Linked DNA regions of Homo sapiens. The protein of the gene in region 6 purifies or fractionates together with the protein of the main gene of each other region. This does not show direct contact. Each region holds a gene or a part of one and is shown on either strand. Other genes may lie near its edges. The genes, in order: ZNF143, SMAP2, BCL7B, PPP2R2C, RBMS1 and SMAD9.

Evidence for each region.
Region 1: the proteins of SMAD9 (region 6) and ZNF143 purify together in Homo sapiens (affinity purification with mass spectrometry, with the first as the bait; one large-scale study listed by BioGRID). This does not show direct contact.
Region 2: the proteins of SMAD9 (region 6) and SMAP2 purify together in Homo sapiens (affinity purification with mass spectrometry, with the first as the bait; one large-scale study listed by BioGRID). This does not show direct contact.
Region 3: the proteins of SMAD9 (region 6) and BCL7B purify together in Homo sapiens (affinity purification with mass spectrometry; one large-scale study listed by BioGRID and IntAct). This does not show direct contact.
Region 4: the proteins of SMAD9 (region 6) and PPP2R2C purify together in Homo sapiens (affinity purification with mass spectrometry; one large-scale study listed by BioGRID and IntAct). This does not show direct contact.
Region 5: the proteins of SMAD9 (region 6) and RBMS1 purify together in Homo sapiens (affinity purification with mass spectrometry, with the first as the bait; one large-scale study listed by BioGRID). This does not show direct contact.

What each region holds. Positions count from the first base shown.
Region 1 is NC_000011.10:9,474,512-9,478,011, forward strand, and holds part of ZNF143 (zinc finger protein 143), read left to right. Parts: intron 1-38; coding exon 39-122; intron 123-3,500. UniProt on the Homo sapiens protein: Transcriptional activator. Activates the gene for selenocysteine tRNA (tRNAsec). Binds to the SPH motif of small nuclear RNA (snRNA) gene promoters. Participates in efficient U6 RNA polymerase III transcription via its interaction with CHD8.
Region 2 is NC_000001.11:40,408,227-40,411,726, reverse strand, and holds part of SMAP2 (stromal membrane-associated protein 2), read right to left. Parts: intron 3,075-3,500; coding exon 2,989-3,074; intron 1,971-2,988; coding exon 1,892-1,970; intron 1-1,891.
Region 3 is NC_000007.14:73,535,856-73,538,273, forward strand, and holds the end of BCL7B (B-cell CLL/lymphoma 7 protein family member B), read right to left. Parts: intron 2,159-2,418; coding exon 2,079-2,158; intron 1,536-2,078; coding exon 1,443-1,535; 3' UTR 501-1,442; downstream 1-500. UniProt on the Homo sapiens protein: Positive regulator of apoptosis. Plays a role in the Wnt signaling pathway, negatively regulating the expression of Wnt signaling components CTNNB1 and HMGA1.
Region 4 is NC_000004.12:6,326,115-6,329,614, reverse strand, and holds part of PPP2R2C (protein phosphatase 2, regulatory subunit B, gamma), read left to right. Parts: intron 1-261; coding exon 262-353; intron 354-3,500. UniProt on the Homo sapiens protein: The B regulatory subunit might modulate substrate selectivity and catalytic activity, and might also direct the localization of the catalytic enzyme to a particular subcellular compartment.
Region 5 is NC_000002.12:160,284,308-160,287,807, reverse strand, and holds part of RBMS1 (RNA-binding motif, single-stranded-interacting protein 1), read left to right. Parts: intron 1-723; coding exon 724-839; intron 840-2,763; coding exon 2,764-2,813; intron 2,814-2,939; coding exon 2,940-3,033; intron 3,034-3,500.
Region 6 is NC_000013.11:36,917,439-36,921,593, reverse strand, and holds the start of SMAD9 (mothers against decapentaplegic homolog 9), read left to right. Parts: upstream 1-1,355; 5' UTR 1,356-1,478; intron 1,479-1,557; exon of another isoform or gene 1,558-4,155. UniProt on the Homo sapiens protein: Transcriptional modulator activated by BMP (bone morphogenetic proteins) type 1 receptor kinase. SMAD9 is a receptor-regulated SMAD (R-SMAD).

The DNA.
Region 1 (3,500 bases), on a different chromosome or scaffold from region 6:
AGAAAACATGAGATCTAAATGTAAGCATTGTTCTTGAGCAGGGGACAGTTTGCGTCTAGAGGATGGTCAAGCAGTACAGTTAGAAGATGGTACCACAGCATTTATTCACCACACCTCCAAAGGTAAAATAACTTTGAAAGTATGAATAAAATAAGGGAGAAGTGGGAGTGGTGGGGGAAAGAAGACCTGTGTTTAGCTTCTGAATTGTTGTCATGGGAAAGAATTGTATTTATTCATTAAAGTACAAGGTGGCAGATTTAAGCATGATTTAAGGAAAAATTTTCCTACAATTTGAGCTGTCCAGTGACAAGCTGGAACAGCAAACCAAATGACTGGTCCCTGGAAGACTTAAAGTAGAGGCCACATTTTGTTTTTTTGGTTGGCTTTTGTTCTAAGAGACAGGGTCTCACTCTGTTGCCAGGCTGGATTGTGGTGGCACAAGCACAGCTCACTGCAGCCTCAAACTCCTGGGCTCAGGGATCCTCCTGCCTCAGCCTCCTGAATAGCTGGGACTACAGGTGCATGCTGCCTCTCCCAGCTAGTTTTTTCATTTTTTGTAGAGACAGGGTCTTACTCTGTTGCCAGGCTAATCTCAAACTCCTGGCCTCAAGCCAGCCTCCCAAAGTGCTGGGATTATAGGCGTTAGCTACTGCACCCAGCCTTAATTTCATATTTTAAAAGCAGCCTTGGCTCCTTTTTTAAATGATTCAGAAATAAAATCACAATGTAACATTGAAATGGTTAACTTCATATTTTATTCATTTCTGTATTTTAGAGATAAGATCTTTGTTAGGCTAGAGTGCAGTGGTACAATCATAGCTCACTATAGCCCTGAATTCCTGGGCTCAAGGGGCTTTCCTGCCTCAGCCTCCTGAGCAGCTAGGACTACACGTGTGTGTCACCACAGCCAGCTGATTTTTAAATTTTTATTTTCTGATTAATTTTTTTTGTTAAATATAGGGTCTTGCTATGTTGCTCAGGCTGGTCCTGAACTCCTGGCCTCAAGCAGTCCTCCTGCTCCGACCTCCCAAAGCAGTGGGGTCACAGACATGAACCACTTTGCCTAACCTATTTCTTCCTCTTAAATGCAATTTTTTGCCTGGGCATGTTGGCTCATGCCTGTAATCCTAGCACTTTGGGAGGCCGATGCAGGCGGATCACCTGAGGTCAGGGGTTTGAGACCAGCCTGGCCATGCAAAACCCTGTCTCTACTAAAAATACAAAAAAATACAAAAATTAGCCAGTTGTGGTAGTGCATGCCTTCAATCCTGGCTACTAGGGAGGCTGAGGCAGGAGAATCGCTTGAACCCAGGAGGTAGAGGTTGCAGTGTAGTTGAGATCGTGCCACTGCACTCCAGCCTGGGCAACAGAGTGAGACCCTGTCTCAAAAAAATATATATGTGTGTGTGTGTGTGTGTGTGTGTGTGTGTGTGTGTGTGTGTGTATAAAATTTTTAAAGCAAGGTCCTTTGCCTACTATGTTTAATTGAAACTAAGTATACAATGTCAAAAATATTTGAAGCAAATACAGCAAAATGTTAATGCTTATTACATTTGTTTAAGGGAAGTTCAGGGGTTTGAGGTGGAATGTCTAGGAATGATGAGTACAGCTCTGCAACCAGACTATGTATATTCAAAGCTACTTTTTTTTTGCTGTGTGACATTAAGCAGATTACTTTTCTGTGCTTTAGTTTCATCATCTGTAAAATGAGGATTATAGTAGGTGTCCATATCATACGTAGGGTTGTTGTGAGGACAGAATGCACAAACATGTAAAGCACTTAGAACCGTGCTTGTCTCATACTAAATGCTCAATAAATGTTACCTATTGTTACTACTTTAGAGAATATTTTATTTTAATTAATTAATTAATTTATTATTTTGAGACAGTCTCGCTCTGTTGCCAGGCTGGAGTGCAGGGACACGATCTTGGCTCACTGCAACCTCCGCCTCCTGGTTTCAAGCGATTCTCCTGCCTCAGCCTCCCAAGTAGCTGAGATTACAGGTGCCCGCCACTACACCCGGCTAATTTTTGTGTTTTAGTAAAGATGGGGTTTCACCATGTTGGTCAGGCTGGTCTCAAACTCCTGACCTCAGGTGATCCGCCCACTTCAGCCTCCCAAAGTGCTGGGATTACAGGCATGAGCCACTGCACCCAGCTAGAGAGCATTTTATTATAGAATGACATAACACGTTTTAGAAAGGCTGTTTTGTTGTGAAGCCAAAGGGAGGAATCTTTTTTTTTTTTTTTTTTTTTTTTTTTTTTTGAGACAGACTCTCGCTCTCTCTCCCAGTCTGGAGTGCAGTGGTGCGATCTCGGCTCACTGCAAGCTCCGCCTCCTGGGTTCACACCATTCTCCTGCCTCAGCCTTCGGAGTAGCTGGGACTACAGGCACCCACCACCATGCCCGGCTAATTTTTTGTATTTTTTTTAGTAGAGGCGGGGTTTCACCGTGTTAGCCAGGATGGTCTCGGTCTCCTGACCTTGTGATCTGCCCTCCTCAGCCTCCCAAACAAAGGGAGGAATCTTTAAAAAATTTAAAATACTTAAATTTATAAATAAATTTCTTTAATTACAGTTGGAAAAAAGTAAAGTCTGCACCCCTTCCTTCCTTCCTTCCTTCCTTCCTTCCTTCCTTCCTTCCTTCCTTCCTTCCTTCCTCCTCTCCCTTCCCTCCTTTCCCTCCTTTCCCTCCCTTCCCTTCCTTCCCTTCCTTCCCTTCCTTCCCTTCCTTCCCTTCCTTCCTTTTCTTTCTTTTCTTTTCAGCAGAGTCTTGCTCTGTCACCAGGCTGGAGTGCAGTGGTGCAATCTCGGCTCACTGCAACCTCCACATCCTGGGTTCAAGCGATTCTCCTGCTTCAGCCTCCCAAGTAGCTGGGACTACAGGTGCGCGCCACCATGCCCAGCTATTTTTTTTGTATTTTTAGTAGAGATGGGATTTCACCATGTTGGCTAGGATGGTCTCAATCTCTTGACCTTGTGATCCGCCTGGCTTGGCCTCCCAAAGTGTTGGGATTACAGGCGTGAGCCACCACAAAAGGCCGCACTTTTTTCTTTATCAATAAGAGTTAGTCACAGGTTCATTGTAACTGGCTAGATTTATTATTTCACTATCTCTATATATATATCGATATAAAATCACTATTTTATATCAATACCAGTATAGATATAGATATATCTTAGTGTGGACATTTAGAGGGGAAAAAACCACCATGGAGGGACTGTGGAGTCATACTGACATGAGTTCAAATCCTGATTTCTCTACATATTGATTTTGACTGTTAATTGTTAGTGTTTTTTCTTTGTTTGTTTTTGTTTTTGGTTTGTTTTTTGAGAGGGACTCTGGCTCTGTCGCCCAGGCTGGAGTGCAGTGGCACGATCTTGGCTCACTGCAACCTCTGCCTCCCAGGTTCAAGTGAGTCTCCTGCCTCAGCCTCCCCAGTAGCTGGGAATACAGGCGCGTGCCACCGTGCCCTGCTAAGTTTTTTGTATTTTTAGTA
Region 2 (3,500 bases), on a different chromosome or scaffold from region 6:
AAAAAGAATAGTTTTTAACAAAGCCAGTTTCTTTTCATTTGATATTAAACGTCTTCACTTAGCAAATACTAATTATTGGCATAAAAATCTTCACAAAATATGAAAAAAATCTAAGTACATTAAATAACAAATTCTGAAATAGCTTTTTGGTAAATGGGAGGTTATTTCCTTCCTAAGAGAAACATCCGGTAACCGGGCTTGCTTTCATGGGTACAGTATACCAGCAATGAAATCATGAATACCCTGAGGGCAGAGCTGCTGTTTCCACAATAGCTGTGTACAAATAGCAACTCTACTCCTTCGTCATCTGAATTATCTCAGATACCCTTTTCTGACCTCATCTGAGTTCATATCTTTAGGCACAATGAACAGAGCTGGGCAGACAGACCACAGTTTTCTACAAATAAAACGAAATGTGTATGCTTGGGTTCTAAACTGTTTTTGATGATGCCATGCAAGCTGTAGCTGCACACTGGGTTCTTTCTTGGCACAGATATGATATTGACAAGTCCCTTTTCTGGATAACTGCAAGGTAAGAGTCCTTCATACACAGTTGAGAAGGAATCATTTTTACCTAACTATATGTATTACACTTACTTGCCTGTGTTGAAATTCACCTACCAGTTAATGCCCCTTTCACACAGCTTCATAAGATCAGCCTGAAGTGGATTCCAATTAGCTTAACTTTTAATTACCCAGAAGGGCTTGGAGCTCAGTGCAAACAGTGATTTCACTGGCTATTATATCATTATTACATAACTAGAATAGATGATAGATAGGTAGGACCTGCGCTGGAAGTGGAGAATCCCTTACTCTCAATACTTCTGTGACTAGATAAATAGCCAATTATTCCTAAGAGAATTTTCTGTAGAATCTTGTCAAAGGTTATTTAAAGGTATAAATAGTCATATCTATTGGTTCTCCATTAGCTGTCATTAGTTAGGCATATTTTCCTCTTTCAGAAATCATGCTGTCTGTCCCCCTGTGTGTTATATTTGTCCTAGTTATCATATACTGTATTGCAGATTCTAAACATGCCTAGGATGGAATGTGTTCTTGGCAACTGGTAGCCAGTCTCCCTCTGAAACCCTTCTCAGAAACAAGGGTCCCATTGGCAATCAGTCCAACACACTGGTTATCAGCAGGTAATGCTGGAAATATACATTGGTCAAACTGAAGGAAACTCTGGTGATTTAATTACACCTACTTTTGTTGATTTCATTTACAGGAAAAAAGTATATATGTGTGTATATATCTATGTAGATAGATATAGCTGTAGTACATATACACATATACTGTTTTATTTGATCTAGTATATGCAACATGTCCATCCCAAGAAATAATTCAAAACTGGGAATCATCACTAACACCTTCTAACTACAGATTAAGGCAAGAATTCACCGATAGGCAGAAGTTTGTTTCTGCCTCATGGTCTTGACTCAGTAACTGGCACTTTTTACTTTTGCTTAAAAATTTATATTGAGACAGGGTCAAACTCCGTTGCCTAGACTGGAATGAAGTGGTGCAATCACAGCTCACTGCAGCCTCAACCTCCCTGGCTCACGTAATCCTCCGACCTCAGCCTCCCAAGTAGCTGGTTATTACAGGCATGTATACCACCATGCCTGGCTAATTTTTAAATTTTTTGTAGAGATGGGGGTCTTTCTTTGTTGCCCAGGCTGGTCTTAAACTTCTAGGTTCAAGTGATCCTCCCACCTCAGCCTCCCAAAGTGATGGGATTAGGGGATGAGCCACCACACCTGGTCTACTTTTGCATTTTTTAAAAGATGGTTTTGGAGTGTTTTGGTAGCAGTTCTTCAACGTGTTCTCTGGCCTGATTTAATAAGCACATTACTTATTGTGGACAAAACTTGAAAGATGTATAACCAACCCTAAAGGCATTGATGTCCAGACTTCGGTCCATGTATTTCTTCTTCTCATATTTGTCTCGAATAAATCCTTCAACAGCTCTGCAAAAAGCTTATTAAGGATGAATCCAACAAGCCTCTCAAACAGCAAGAAGATAAAAGATCAATTGTGTTCCACGGAGCATTGTTCTCCTCCTTCCCTCTTGCCTGGTTTCCCCACATGGCTCCTGCCTCTTCATATGCAATTTCTCTGACCAAAACCTTAAAATGCCTCTTTCACAGTTAAAGCAGGGAATCATTACTTCCTATGCTTTCCCTTCAGCGTGATGATAGCAGCAAGTGGAATTAACCTTCAAACTGACATTAGAGGCTGTATGTGGCTGTTCTAGAATATAGGTAAAGCAGTCAAATGTCTATTTTAAAGCACTTAGGTCAATAGGCCTCAAACAAAGGCACGTAAGTGCCCCTTAAAAACATAAACTCTTGTGCCCCACTGCCAAATTCTGACCAGTGGGTCTTCTGCAAGGCCCCAAATCTGCATTTAACAGGTTCCACCTGAACCCATTAAAAAAAAAAGAACCTTAACAAGATGATCTACAAACTACATTTTGAGAAGCACTGCCTTTAAGGGATTTGGTTTTGTGTCCTAGGTGCTATGCTCTGTTGAACAGATGGTGGAAGAAAGTTATTGGTTATTGACAAACTGGTAAACAACAGTTAATTCTTTCACCCAAGACATAAAAAGATGATAAAAATGAATGGCAATTTTGCTGACTGCCAGGGTTAACAGAGCACAATGAACTACTCTTTTTAATCAAACAATAGTTTCAGAGATCCAAAATAAACTAGTGGAGATGTAACTTTATAGAAGAATTCACAGTGAAATCACTGCAGTCTTAATTCCAGAGTGAGTCTTCTTCAAGTGACACCGTATGACAATTCCGACATTCACAAATACATGTGCTTTTTGTGCACCTTGATTGCAGGACAGAGGACAAGCAAGGACACTGACTAATCCACATAGAGATGACCCAGTCACATTACAGGACTGGAGTCTTGTCTGACTCTCCCCAAGCATCAAAATACCACTCAGCCTTCTAAGTTGCTCCAGAAAAGATACGGGTCTATCTGAGGTCGCCGAAAGGTCTCAGGAAGATAGGCTTCATAAAGTCGGTTTGCCTTTCCATTTCCCATCTCTTGCATGCACTGTGACCAAAGAGAATGTAGAAACATGGAACGTCAGATCAAGAAAGAACTGAAAAACTTCTCACCCAATTCCACTACTGTACAATTGAAGAACCAACCTAGAGAGTGTCAGAACCAACATTTAAACTTGTGTATTCTGATTTCCAATTCATGATTCCCTCTACCTTACTAGGATTTCCCAATCATTTGCCCCAAGCTGTCTTTCCCCCACTCCATAGGTTCCTTTTACTGAAATATTTGTGTACCAAGATACATTCAATTCAGTAATAAATCAAGATCTCATTTGAAACTCTTAGATACACAGCTACCAATTAAAATGTCTACTTGGCAGGCAATGATCAGTGTTATCATTCTGAGTTTATACTATTAATCAATTCCAATAAATGTGTTTCCCATTAGGCTTTTAAGTAGACTCCTTAACACTTG
Region 3 (2,418 bases), on a different chromosome or scaffold from region 6:
ACTAAAGGCGCCTGCCACCATGCCTGGCTAATTTTTGTATTTTTAGTAGAGATGGGGTCTCATTTTGCTGGTCAGGCTGGTCTTGAACTCCTGAGCTCAGATGATCCACCCACCTCAGCCTCCCAAAGTGCTAAGATTACAGGCGGGAGCCACTGCGCCTGGCCTGGTTTTTATGTTTTAATTTAAAAATATTGTTTAGATAGAGATAGGGTCTTGCTGTGTTGCCCAGGCTGGTCTCAAACTCCTAGCCTCAAGTGATCCTCCTGCCTCGGCCTCCCAAAGTGCTGGGATAAGAAGTATGAGCCACCACGCCCAGCGAGAAGCATAATTTGAACTACGTGACAGCTTCAAAGGGAGGCTAGAAATCACTGTCATGAAGTCCACACTGTGGGAGTGAAAGGATGGGCAGGCCCAGCCCACAGTGACCCCACAAGCACTCAGCCACCACCCCCACCCCGGCCCGCAACCTTCAAGAAGGAAGCACTCAGATACCAACAGGACATATTTCAAATAGTTTAATTTTAAAAATATTCTATTCAGTGCTAAAATATGTCTTCACTCACTGTTGCCCATTTCCATTTTCTTAAACTTTTTTGAAACAAAAAATAAAATCACAAAGTTCAATTCAACATGCAGATTTCAAAGAAAAGGGAGCTTTCTAGAAACTGAGCTGAAGGGGTACTGTGGGGGATGGGTACTGTTGTCAGAACCTCAAATTCTTGCTGGGGCAGTTTGTGACAAGAGGCAGGGATGCTGGAATGACAGGTAGAGGTGAGAACAAAGCTGCGTGTGTGCAGATGTGTGTGCTGAGGGCAGGGGATGGGGACGGCGGCCACAAAGGGCTGTCAGCAGCTAGGGTGCCCGTGAGAGGTAGGACCACCTCAGGCATGGGCAGAGCTGGCAGGACAGCAAGAAATCTAGACGGACTCTCTGCCCTTGTGTGGAGAAAAGCCCTTCCCTTCCCTCCAATGTCTCTACCCAGTCCTCCAACAGCAGCCTACAGGGCCCCCAGTCCTAGGGGAAAGTCCGGGAGTCTACAGTCTCCGTTCAAGTTCAAGTAACCTGAGGCACGCTCTCTTCTAGAAGGTGCCTTCCACATCTCTCTCTTCTCGCAGAAGCTGCCAGCAGCTCCGTCCAGAGATTCTGGAGCAGAGACTGCTGCCTGGAGGTCACAGATGAATCTTGGGGTGGCCGATGCTCCAGCCAACTTGGGGTGCAAAAAAGACATGAGCGCTCCTCTTCTCGGGAGCAAGTAGACACAGGTGCCAGGGTCAGGAAGATGATGCTACAGCCCCAAGTCCTACGCCAGCCTTCCAGCCCGGAAGGCTCATGTGTGCAGGCTCTTGACCCCAGTGCTTGCCCTTACCCCAGCAACGCGGCGCGGCCAGAACCAGAATGCAATAAATAGAGGCAGGGCCAGGAGGCGGAGGGCCGGGATGGTGCTAGCTTTCTGACGCCGTCTGCGGCACTGTGGGTTGGTCCACACAGAAGCGCTTCAGGGGCGGGGCACCTGAGTCTTCCTCTTCCTCAACGACCTAGGAGCAGGCAGAGCATGGAATGCCAGGGCCACCCCTCCCAACCAGAACCTTCCCACCCACCCGAATTATAATGGGATGTCCACTCTGCTCCTTCCAGCAGATGATCAAACATCCTCCCCTGCCTACAACCCTGGGACTCATTTCCGGCGCTGCAGATCCAACCCCACATCCACAGTCTTTCCTGGTTTTTTGACTTAGAAACTGGGAAGCCTGGCCGGGCACAGTGGCTCACACCTATAATCCCAGCACATTGGGAGGCTGAGATGGGTGGATCACTTGGGCTCAGGAGTTCGAGACTAGCCTGGCCAACATAGTGAAACCCCATCTCTACTAAAAATACAAAAATTAGCCAGGTGTGGTAGTGGGCGCCTGTAATCCCAGCTACTCAGGAGGCTGAAACAGGAGAATTGCTTGAACCCAGGAGGCAGTGGAGGTTGTAGTGAGCCAGGATCGCACCACTGCACTCTAGTCTGGGCAACAGCGAGACCCTGCCTTAAACCAAAAAAACAAAAAACTGGAAAACTCAAAGTGATTGCTTACCTGTGTCTCTAGTGGAACTGGTTCTTCCTTGGTGAGGGTAGGAGGTTCATCAGCAACTTCCGAGGAGGGCAGGGAGGGCTCTGAAAAGGCAGTAGGGTCGGCCTGAGGGCAGGGCTCCCCTGAGGCCTGGACCTGGGGGAGCTTCCTTAGAGCTGTGTGGAGGTGGCTTGGTGAGGAGGGGAGAATACTGGCCTGAGAAGCAAACATTCATTCAGGGCCCAGCTGGACCAGGTCACAGCCAAGAATGGTGGAAGGGCAAAATACGGCTAGACTGCAGAGGGCCATCTCTGCTGGGCTGGAGATATCTGGAACCGACAAAGCAGCTCATCTTGTCATCCTC
Region 4 (3,500 bases), on a different chromosome or scaffold from region 6:
GCCCCCCGATAAGATGAGCAGGGCTGTATTGGGCTGTGTCACGGTCGGGGTCAGCCGTGTGCCTGGTCATGGGCCTCCCGATGAGATGAGCAGGGCTGTGTCGGGCTGTGTCAGAGCATTCAGACCCTCGCTGAGATGAGCAGGTCTGCGCTGGGCCATGTCAGGGCATGCAGACCCTCGCTGCTCTTTGAGACCCTTCTTGTGGAAGGGCCAGGATGGTCGGGACGCCCCGTCCACTCACCTCATCCCTTATCCCACCAGGTCCATGACTACCTTCGGAGCAAGCTCTGTTCCCTGTACGAGAACGACTGCATTTTCGACAAGTTTGAATGTGCCTGGAACGGGAGCGACAGGTAAGCCCTGACCTCAGCCCGCACCTCACCTCACCGTAGGGAGGGTTTCTGCCCTGCAGGGGTCTGGGCTGGGATTCCGGTGACCCGCAGCATGGGGCTACTCAGCCTCAATGGGTCCAGGTGTCTGGGTGAAGCCCACGCTTTCCAGAGCAGGTCCAACTCTCAGCGCTCAGATTCAAGGGGCAGGACATGAAATTCTTCATCTTCTGTCACTGAACCTCACAGCCACGTTGGCGCCTGCCCTATGGGCAGTAGTGGGAACATGTTTAGTTAATTCAGGGTCCCCGGTGATGTGCTCCCCTCTCCCAGCTTGTCGGGGGCGAGGGCTATAGCCCAGCACCCGGTCACCATCATCCATCCACACCTGTATGTCCTGAGACAGCCCTGCACCCCTGTGGCTTTGACCATCGGTCTACTCACCCCTCCTCCCATCACCACTACTGTCTCCCTCTCTTCCTGGTGACACCCCACTCGGGCCCGCTGAGGCTCAGGGGCACCTTGGAGCTCCTACACCCTCCAGGGCTTGTCACAATCCACAAGTCCAGCCGTCTCTCAACCCCACCTGCCTGGAAAGTGGCGCCCCAGTGCCAGAAGTGAGTTCCTGTGTCTCCCTAGCCTGGGCTCAGCCCAGGGCGGGCATGGACAAGGGGGCTGTGGCAGGGGCTCCTGACCTGACCTCTACCCGTGGGTCCTTACCTCTGTGTCTCTTCTCTGGGATTCTTCCTCCATTCTGGAGGTGGGAAAATCCCTCTTCTGCCCTCCCAAATCACATCAGCTTTGTGCTCAGGGTCCTGCCAGGCGTAAGATTCTGAAATGGACAAGCCTACTCTCCATCTGTGAGTTTCGATCTCAGAAGCTGAGAGGTGGCCTCTCAGTGTCTCCTACAGCTGCTTCCTCAAGGACAGGATGCCTCTTTGTCCAGCCGCCCAGATTCAGAAGTGGGTCTCCAGATGATACACAGTGTGGAGATAAAGACTACACTGGCTGCTAGATCAGAATACCACCTGTCAGGAGCCCATGTACTGTCACCTCCTCCCCGCAGTCCTGTCCAGTGTGGTGGGCAAGGAGGGTGGAGTGAGAGCCAGCAGCCCTGACTTGGGCATCACCTGGTGGGGGGCTGTCCACCCTGTGGATGGCATCAGTCAACATGACAGGTCTGGGCTCTCCCAGACCTCTGAGGGTGGCTGGCACTGTGGTGGTCATGTGAGAGCTGCCGCACTATGACTCTCTGTGGCTCTGGGCATAGGGCTGGGACCATCAGGGTTGGTGTGTGGGATGAGGGGAGGGCTGGACATGGCAGAGACAGGACCAGGAGGGAGCCCCCTGGAAGCAGGGCTGGATCCAAGTGGGGGGCCAAGTCATTGTGTCCAGGGAAGGAGATTTCTGAGAGAGTTGCCAACATCCTGGAGCTCCCCCAGCCCGCAGGGGTCTCTCAGCAGAGCCCGAGCTCAGGCAAGGGGCTGGCATGGTGATCACAGGGGGCCACTAAAGGATGCTTAGAAAACCAGGATGGAGGCCCGACCCGGGGCTGGGCTGGCACAGCTGGGTCAGCAGGACACAGGACCTTCTCTCTAGGCCCTGCCCCCAGATAGATCCCAGACACCCCCAGCAGACAGGGCTCCTCCCATGCTGCTGAGCTGCATTTGGGGTTCCCTGGTGCAGTGGGTCCCAAGAGGGTCTATCCAAATCGGACGAGAGGGACCTGCAGCTGTAACAAGCTGATTCCAGCTTTTATGTGCGTTTTGCGGGGTAGGTCCCCGCTGGCTGCGACCCACTGCCCGTCCTTCCTTCAAGCTGCCACCAGGGGGCACCCGCGGCCAGGTGATGCCTGCTCCCAGGACTGGAGAAGCCGCCAAGCATCCCCAGGCTGACAGTGGTGTCTAGGCCTGGGCTCTCCTGTCCTGCCTCCCACCCGCCACTTCCTGCGTGCACTTTACACGCCAGCCACGCCCTGTCCTAGTGGTCCCCCACCCGCCTCACTGTCTCTCGCTCCACAGCTGGCTCTGCTCTGCCCGGCTGGAACCTCTGTCCTTGTTTGCCTCCCGCAATGGGTGGGGTGCCCTGGGGGGCTACTATGACTCAACCTGTTCTGAGCCCTTCACTGGGGACCTCAGGTGTGTCCAGTGGCTGTGGGTGTTTCTAGAAGGCATAGAGGTGTGCCACCTCCCAGTTCACTTTGAGCACTGTTCTGAGAACAACATGCCCCATGGTCAGGGGTCCCAAGATAAACAGACCCTGGGTCCTGCCTTCCAGGGCCTCAGAGGCTCAGGAGAGAAGCAAGGATTCCCCCCAGGTTCCCACATCCTTGCAGACCAAAGCAAACTCGAATCCTGGCAGGCTCCCAGTTGCTGCCCTCTTATTCCTGGTGACCCCCTCTGACAGTTGGTCCGGCCCGCAGAGCGCCGCTGCTGCCGCGTGGTGGCTGCCCGATGGCCCCTGCCGTGGGGCTTCCTAGCACCGGCAGAACGCAGATGGGCAGCGTGCTGTGGAGAGGCAGCAGCTCTCCTGCTGGACTCTCTCAGTCTCTGGTCCACATTCTACCCTCGCCACCGTGTGCTTGAGGAAGCCCCTAAGTCAGCTCGGCTGGAAAGTGGTTCTAGGAAACTGGCCTTCGTGGCCGCTTTGGGGATGAGACCATGTGTGATGCCTTCAGCAAGATCCCAGTTCGTATGCGCAGGGGTGCCGCAGTGATCCTGCGTGGACTATCCTATTGGCAGGCCTGCCCTTCCCCAGGTTACCTACCCGGAGGAATCCCGCAGGCCCTCCCACAACAGGCTTCAACGCCCCCTCCTCCATGAAGTTCTCCTTGATCTGTCCTGCCTGGGGGGAGAGATTTGTGCCAGCCGAGCGTGCTCGGGTGCGGGAGTCAAACACACCTACACTTGCTCTGAGGAGTCCTGGGCAAGGCTCCCCCAGGGGCCCATGCTGTATCCCTAGGGCTGTTTTTTTCTCTCCGGCCGTTTTCTTCTCTCCATGCTTCCCCATCTCCGCTCCTCCCTGCTTCTTCTTACACACTGGCCTCATCCTCTCCCTCTTCAGAGATGACCCCCAAATCATTCCCCTTTCCATTATCCTCAGCCAGCCAACCCCTCCCAGGGACTGTGTAAAACTCTCATGGAAGGATCTGATTGGCTCTGTGTGGGTCAC
Region 5 (3,500 bases), on a different chromosome or scaffold from region 6:
ATTTTTAGCTTTCTCACAACAGCCATCTTCACTGACGTATCCCAAAAATAAACATATGAGACCTATTTCTATTCATTCACTGATGCAACCAAGATGTAATAAGCAACTACAAAGTCCAGACACTTAGGCACTGGGGATACAGTGATAGACAAAACAGACAATGTTACTGCCCCCATGGGGCGTATAGCCTAGAAGGGGAAACAGACACCAAGCAAGTAAACATACTCACCAATTGTTACAAATTGTGAATAAAAATATATGTGCGAGCAGTGTAGAGGTGGCTTGTTTTCTACTGGGAGAAGTGAAGGGTCCCTCTTAGGAATTATAATGGGACGCTAAGGGACCATTTTAAGTTGGGGGAGGGGAGGATGGCACAATCCTATTGAATTTGAAGATTATTTTGGTGACGGTCCAGAGGTGGAATTGGAGAGGGCCCAAAACCAAAAGAAATGTGTCTACTCTTAAGTGTGAAAGTGAATCGAAAGATTCCTTTGCTTCCTCAGAATAGTTATTTAAATGTTCAGAAATAATAACTAGTATGTTTTTCTGCACTATGTTTTTCATCGTGGACAGTTTTACAAAGGTCTGAGTAAACTGCTTTTGCCTTAAAGTGTTGTATGAATTTTCTAATAGCGTGAACACTATTCCTATTTTTGTAATACATTTTGTCATCCACATACACGTATCATTGTGGTTTCATTTTATTTTTCTCTGTTTACTTAGCCCCCACAGAACCTTTATTGTGTAAGTTTGCTGATGGAGGACAGAAAAAGAGACAGAACCCAAACAAATACATCCCTAATGGAAGACCATGGCATAGAGAAGGAGAGGTGAGACTTGTAAGTCCTTTCTTGAAACTTTGCGGGGTGGGGGAGGGGGTGTGATCTTGAATGCCCACATGAAAAGTAACACAAAAAGGCATCTTGACTTGGCTGCACACTTCTGAAATAGGTGCCAGGATTAAATCTTCCTTTCGGTACATTATAATTCAAGTGATGCCAAATTAAAATTCTTTTCATTATATATGGTGATAACAGAGTGATTCTCCAGATGGACCGATAGGTGGTGGAAGCAGCTGTGTTTACCAGCTAGCTACACATGAAGTAAAAGAGCATTCTAAATTGCCATAAGAAAAACACAAGTGATTTGGGTTTGTTTTTGGTTTTTTTCAGAAACAGGGTTTCTGTAGGCTAGGCGCGGTGGCTCACACCTATAATCCTAGCACTTTGGGAGGCCAAGGCAGGCAGATCACCTGAGATCAGGAGTTAGAGATCAGCCTGGCCAACATGGCGAAACCCCGTCTCTACTAAAAATACAAAAATTAGCCCTGCGTGGTGGTCCATGCCTGTAATCCCAGCTACCTGGGAGGCTGAGGCAGGAGAATCGCTGCAGCCCGGGAGGCAGAGGCTGCAGTGTTCCAAGATCATGCCACTGCACTCCAGCCTGGGCAACAGAGCGAGACTCCATCTCAAAAAAAAAAAACAAAATAAAAAAAAAAAAAAAAGAAAGGAAGAAACATGGTCTCTGTTGCCCAGGCTGGAGTCCAGTGGTGTGGTTATAGCCTACCACAACCTTGAACTCCTGTGCTCAAGCAGTCCTCCCACCTCAGCCTCCTATGTAGCTGAGACGACAGGGACATGCCACCACTCCTGGCTAATTTTTAAAAATTTTTATTTTTTTATTTATTTTTTATTTTTGAGATGGAGTCTTGCTCTGTCGCTCAGGCTGGAGGGCAGTGGCACGATCTCCGCTCACTGCAAGCTCTGCCTCCTGGGTTCATGCCATTCTCCTGCCTCAGCCTCCCAAGTAGCTGGGACTACAGGCACCCACCACCATGCGCGGCTAATTTTTTGTATTTTTACTAGAGATGGGGTTTCACCGTGTTAGTCGGGATGGTCTCAATCTCCTGGCCTCATGATCCACCCACCTCAGCCTCCCAAAGTGCTGGGATTACAGGCGTGAACCATCGTGCTCGGCCTAATTTTTTAAAATTTTTATAGAGATAGGATCTAACTATGTTGCCCAGGCTAGCATGGTTTCTTAGAGGGGTTTATATTTATAATATTTAGAAGTTATCCTAAATAGTAATCTAAATATTTATATATAAATAGTACATTTATCACTGAGTTGGGGTTTTTTTCACCTCTCTTTTGAATAGTTTTTTTTTTAATTAAAACTCTCAATTTCGTAATAAAATGTTGGACGTCCATTTCCCTGTATTGACTTTCCATGAATTATTATTTTAAAAACAATAACATATTGATCCAAGAATGTCTAGGGAAAATGTTCTAGAATCTGCACTGTCCAATAACAGCCACCAGCCACAGGTGGCTCTCTGAGCACTTGAAACGTAGCTAGTATGCTAGAGAGATTGATTTTTTATGTAGTTTTAAATAGCTGCATGTGGCTTATGACTATCACATGGGACAGTGCAGGTCCAGAGATTAATTTTCATATTTATAGTCATTTTGACTAACAGAAACTCCCAATTTTATCAAATGCTACTAGACTCTAAGTACAAATTCCCCTCCCTCCCCTTTTTTTTTAAGAGACAGGGGTCTCCTTCTGTTGCCCAGGCTGGAGTGCAGTGATGTAATCATAGCTAACTACAGCCTCGAACTCCTGGGCTTCAAAAGGATCTTCCCACCTCAGCCTCCCCAGCAGCTGGGACTACAGGTGCACACCACCACACCTGGCTAAAAATAGAATTTTTAAATCATGCCTTTCTAGATGAATGTTTATATTTCTTTCTCTTTCCCATAGGCTGGAATGACACTTACTTACGACCCAACTACAGCTGCTATACAGAACGGGTATGTCGTTAAAATAAATCCATAATGGCTTGAGGGAAAATGTGAAGGTGGAAAATATCAGACATTTGTTCCATGAATTATTCTATTTAAAGGATTACTTAATAAAGGCTTTTGTGTTTGTTCTAGATTTTATCCTTCACCATACAGTATTGCTACAAACCGAATGATCACTCAAACTTCTATTACACCCTATATTGCATCTCCTGTATCTGCCTACCAGGTTTGTACCTTTAGGATTCGTCAGCAGTATAACCACTTGCGGACCATGAATCTCTGCTACATTTTTATGTGTCTTAAAATTTTGAGCGTTTATGAAATTTGAGTCAAATATTATGCAGCTTGGATACCCAATTTAGTATGAGCTGCTTTGTATTTGGCAGAGCAATTTATGTATAGGAGAATGTAAAGCAAAGGAAAATGTTTGTCAGTGGTCAGTCCTTGGAATCATAGCATTTTGGATTGGAATGAACCCAAACACTTCCTTCACCAAGGGGCCCTGCTTTTGGACACCATGTGTCCCAAAAATTGAAACTTAAGATAATTGCCGTTAGATATAATACAGAATAGGTGTGTACCCTTGCTTTTGTTTATTCTTCAGCAGGAACTGATAAAAGAACAAGTATAAACATGGTAATACATAAAGATGTGTCTCTAGTAGGTAGCATTAAGTGAGCAATGCAGCTGACA
Region 6 (4,155 bases):
ATCCAGCCTAATCCTTAATATATAATCTGTAGCCCTTACCGGTCCCGCTGTTTCCTGGTGTTTCTCACCCAGGACAATCTCAAACCCAACACATAGCCGGGTGCAGAGGTATCTGGGCCAGTGTAGAAAGAAGACTTTGAGGTTAAGGCATGGTATTTAAGGTTCTGCTGCAAATGTTGTTTTAAACAAATCACCGTTCAACTACAACGGTATAATAATGCAAAAATAGCATCTGCCATGAAGAAAGTGCAGTGCTTTGAGAACTAGAAAAAGCAGTTAAATTTAAGGCCTTGCTTTACATTTCGGAGCCGCCATCGGGGCCAACTGGAGGTATGACTTTCCTGCACACAGGAGCAAGCTGAAAACTGCCCTGTGGCTTTATTCCACGTTCACCCCTGCAGCAAATGCCTTTTCTGTGAGGAACTACGGGCTGATGGGGAATCAGAGGTGGTTCTTCCTAAGTGGCGTTTCTGAGTGGGTTCCAGGAGTCCACAGTGACTTTAAGAGGCAGGCTACCTGGGGGACAGCCAGGCCGTGAGACGAGAAAGTTGTACAGTAACATTGCTGTGTGCCCATAAGTTTGTATCTTTTATTAGATTAGATAATATATCTCACATGCTGGGTTGTTAAGCAAATAAATATGTGTAAGGAAATTACAATCCACATAATTACATGAGTCGTTTTAACCACCACTCACCCCCAGAGTGATTAGATTTTCTTCTGCCTATGCCATTGCGGCCCAGTTGCTCTGTCACTGTCCATGGGGACAGGATCCCCTTACTCCGAAAAGCAAATCAGGAACAAACAGGGCAAGTGAGAGTCACTATCAGGGCCCAGAAACATGTGAGGAACAGCAGCTCAGAAGGGTCTCCAGACTGATGGGCCGGTGATCCTATATTCTTGTTGGGCTGACAACTCTTCTGGTTTCGGGCTCCAGGTGCTGGCAAGAAATCTCAGAGGTGGGGTGGGAGAGAGAGACGCGAGGCGACCCACGCAGACAAAGGGCTCCCACCCCACCCCCGGGCCACCCCGGCAGGCCGGGCAGGGGCCGAGCCTGGGGTCGCGCAGGGGGACCGAGAGGGCAGCGCGGGGCTGGGGGTGGGGAAGAGGCGGGAACCGAGCCGCAGGCCGCTGCGAGGAGTACTACCCCGCCACCCCCGCGCCGCGAGTTTCCGCGCACGTGGCCGTGGGGCCGGTCTCGCTCCCGCCCCCCGCCGGGCCCGCGCAGCCCCCTCCTCTGCGGCTCCCGGAGCGGCCAGAGCGCGCGGCGGCGGGCGGGGGCGGGCCGCAAGCAGGGCTCCCTGGCCGCTTTCCAGGTCGGCGCACTAATACGGGCGATGAGGCTTCGCGGCTCCAGTCTGACTGACGCCGGCTGGGGCCGCCGCCGCCGCCGCCGCCGCCGCCGCTGCTGCAGCCGCTGTCTCGGTCCCCGCCGCCGCCGCCGGGCCCTGCAGGCGCTGGGCGCGCGCAGCCAGGCAGTGAGTGCGCGGCGCTCGGAGCGGGCGGCCGGGGGACCACGGCGGGGGCGGGGTTGGGGGCGCCGGACCTGGGTGGGGGAGGGATGAGTGGCACGGCGGGGACAGGTAAGACGTGCCCTCCTCGGCCGCGCGCTGCTTGTGTGCGTGCGTGTGAGCGCATTGAGTGGAGGGCGAAGTTGTTCGTCCTCGGGGCAGCCTGGGAGGCTCCTCGGCGTGAGGCTTGGCTTTTGGCGGTCGTTGTTCCCGGGTTTTTTGGTGGAGCCTGTCTGGGGTGGAGTGGGGTGGGGTGGGGTGGGCGCGGGGCCGGAGGGGACTGCTCTGGGGAGTTGGCCGCGGCGCAGCTCGCCTTCCTCGCGCCTGCATCCGCCCGCGCCGCGGGCCCCGGGACCTGTCAGGGGATGTTCGACCCGCGGCGGGGGCGGCGGTCGGGTCGGGGCTGGGGCCCGGGGCGTGGGCAGGGACCAGGATAGGCGCCTGAGGGGTCGCTTGCTGTAGCTGGAGATAGGGGACAGCGGACAGAGGGGGCGGCGGGGGTCGTCATTGTGACTCTTTGGGGGCCACTTTTAAACTCGCCAGCGCCGAATTGGCCTCACTTGCCTTCTGTTTCGTAGGCTTTTTGCTTTGTTTACCTTTGAGGCATGCGAACTGAGAAAAAAAGTTAGGAATGTTGTTGAAGTGTCTCCGGGCTCGCGCTTGGACTGTGTCGGAGCCGGGGTGTTTGTCTTTTCCTTGGCCCGCCCCTCGGTGCCAGCTCTCCGCAGAGGGGAGGGGGCGAGGTGGGAAGCAGATACAGGAGACTGCCTGACGCCAGCTTTGTGATCGGAAGGAGGAGCGCTGGGAGAACATTTTTATGGATGGCTAATCGCTGACAAGTTTTCCCGTTACTATTCCTTCCTCCTCCTGCCCTTGACCGTGGACATTTGAAGTGATAGTTTGGAAATACTACGTTGACTTATTTCTGGGCTGGAGTGGGTACTCCTGAGAACTAACCTACAAAGGATACAAATCGAGTTTGGAGATAAAATTGTATGTAAATTCTTTACCCAGTAGTTTACAGTGAGAAACACACCCACAGGGCACTGTGGAGTGCTTTGGATGGATCCAGTTTACTAGTACCATTTCGGTGGCTTGCCAGATTTCTCGGATGATCTTTTGGAAATGTAGGTTAGCAAGAAGCATGGAGGCTGACCGTTAAGTCGTGAGGCATTTAATAATGCTGCCTCCTAAGCAGTAACTGAGCGGAACGTTTGTGGCACCCGTCTGGGAAAGTGAAATGTGACTACTACAAGCATGTCTCCTGCCTTAGCATTCCTCCAAGTGTGAGGGAATGCCTTTGGATGTTTACATTTTAAAAATAGTGATCTATATTTAAGAAGGCATTTAAAATAAAAGCCAAAGACATTCTCAACTCCAAATAGACAAAGATTCAATATAAGAGTTTCCCTGTGCTTGTAGGAAAGCATCAGCACAATTTTAGACTGCTTTTAGGTTTGTGGTTATCCAAGAAGGAGGCTTCAGATAAGAAAAGGATGTGACGCTTTATAAATAAGGAGCATTTTAAATACAAGATGACAGCAATTTCAAGTACTGTATCCGAAAAACAACTTTTAGTGGTAATAGTCACCTTCAGTGATGGCAAGACAGCTGTCTGCCAGACAGCCTTCGGCCTCTTAATGTATTCTGACACAACCAACTCCCATTTTTATGCTTGACTGGTTATCTTTGTCAGAGCTGTTTTATGCTTGAGCTCTCTGGTTTCAAACTATGCTTAAGAGAATGCCAACATACTCTTGATCTGAACAAACTCATGTTTATCAGTGCAGTGTTTACTAAAAATCAAAGACGTAAACAAATTTTGGGTTAAACCTCTAAGTACTTTAGAATTGCCACATCATTGTCATCAGTCTTTCAAAGTCAACATGAACTATTTGGCTTTTCTCCTTTAAAAAATTTTTTTAACTTATATATTCCTAGTTAGTAAGTAATCAGAAAATATTCACAGATGTCAACTCTTGCATCTGTGATTGCCCAAGACATGGATGAGAAAGAAGAGTTTTGTTTTGTTTTTTAAATGAAACATTACTAAAGATATCCATAAGTAATAAACAAGTGGTACACTATCTTTACTAATCATGTGGTCAGTTGGAGGGAAAAAAGTCTGTCCAGAAATTGTTTCATAAAGATGAAAATATTCAATGTCAATATGAAAATACTCAATATGTTTTCCAAATAGTTTAATTCTGATTAATGAGAGTGCACTATGCATTGCCAAACTGGAGGGATGGTGTTTCGTAAGTGAGCACCGTAGGATTAAGGTAACTACTTTATATCTGACATTCCCTCTGTAATAAATAGGACAGCAGTTTCATCATGTTCTGCTTTAATATGTGGGAAATAATCCTTATCCACAGGATGTACTCTGATTTTAGGGAAGGTAAAGGTTATGACAAATATGTGGTTTTTCTGATTTGCCAGACATACTATGCTAAATTTTAAAGCTTTAACGAAGCTTAGTGCAGACTTTCTGTATATTGTTTTGGACACTTAGAGAGGAGTTAAAGAAACGGGAAACTGTCCAGAATGAAACAGTAAATATAGCAGTACGTTGAAACCATGAATCTTCTCAAATAGTTGTAATTCTAGGCTGTTGGATTTATATTTCCTTGGTTACTGTTGC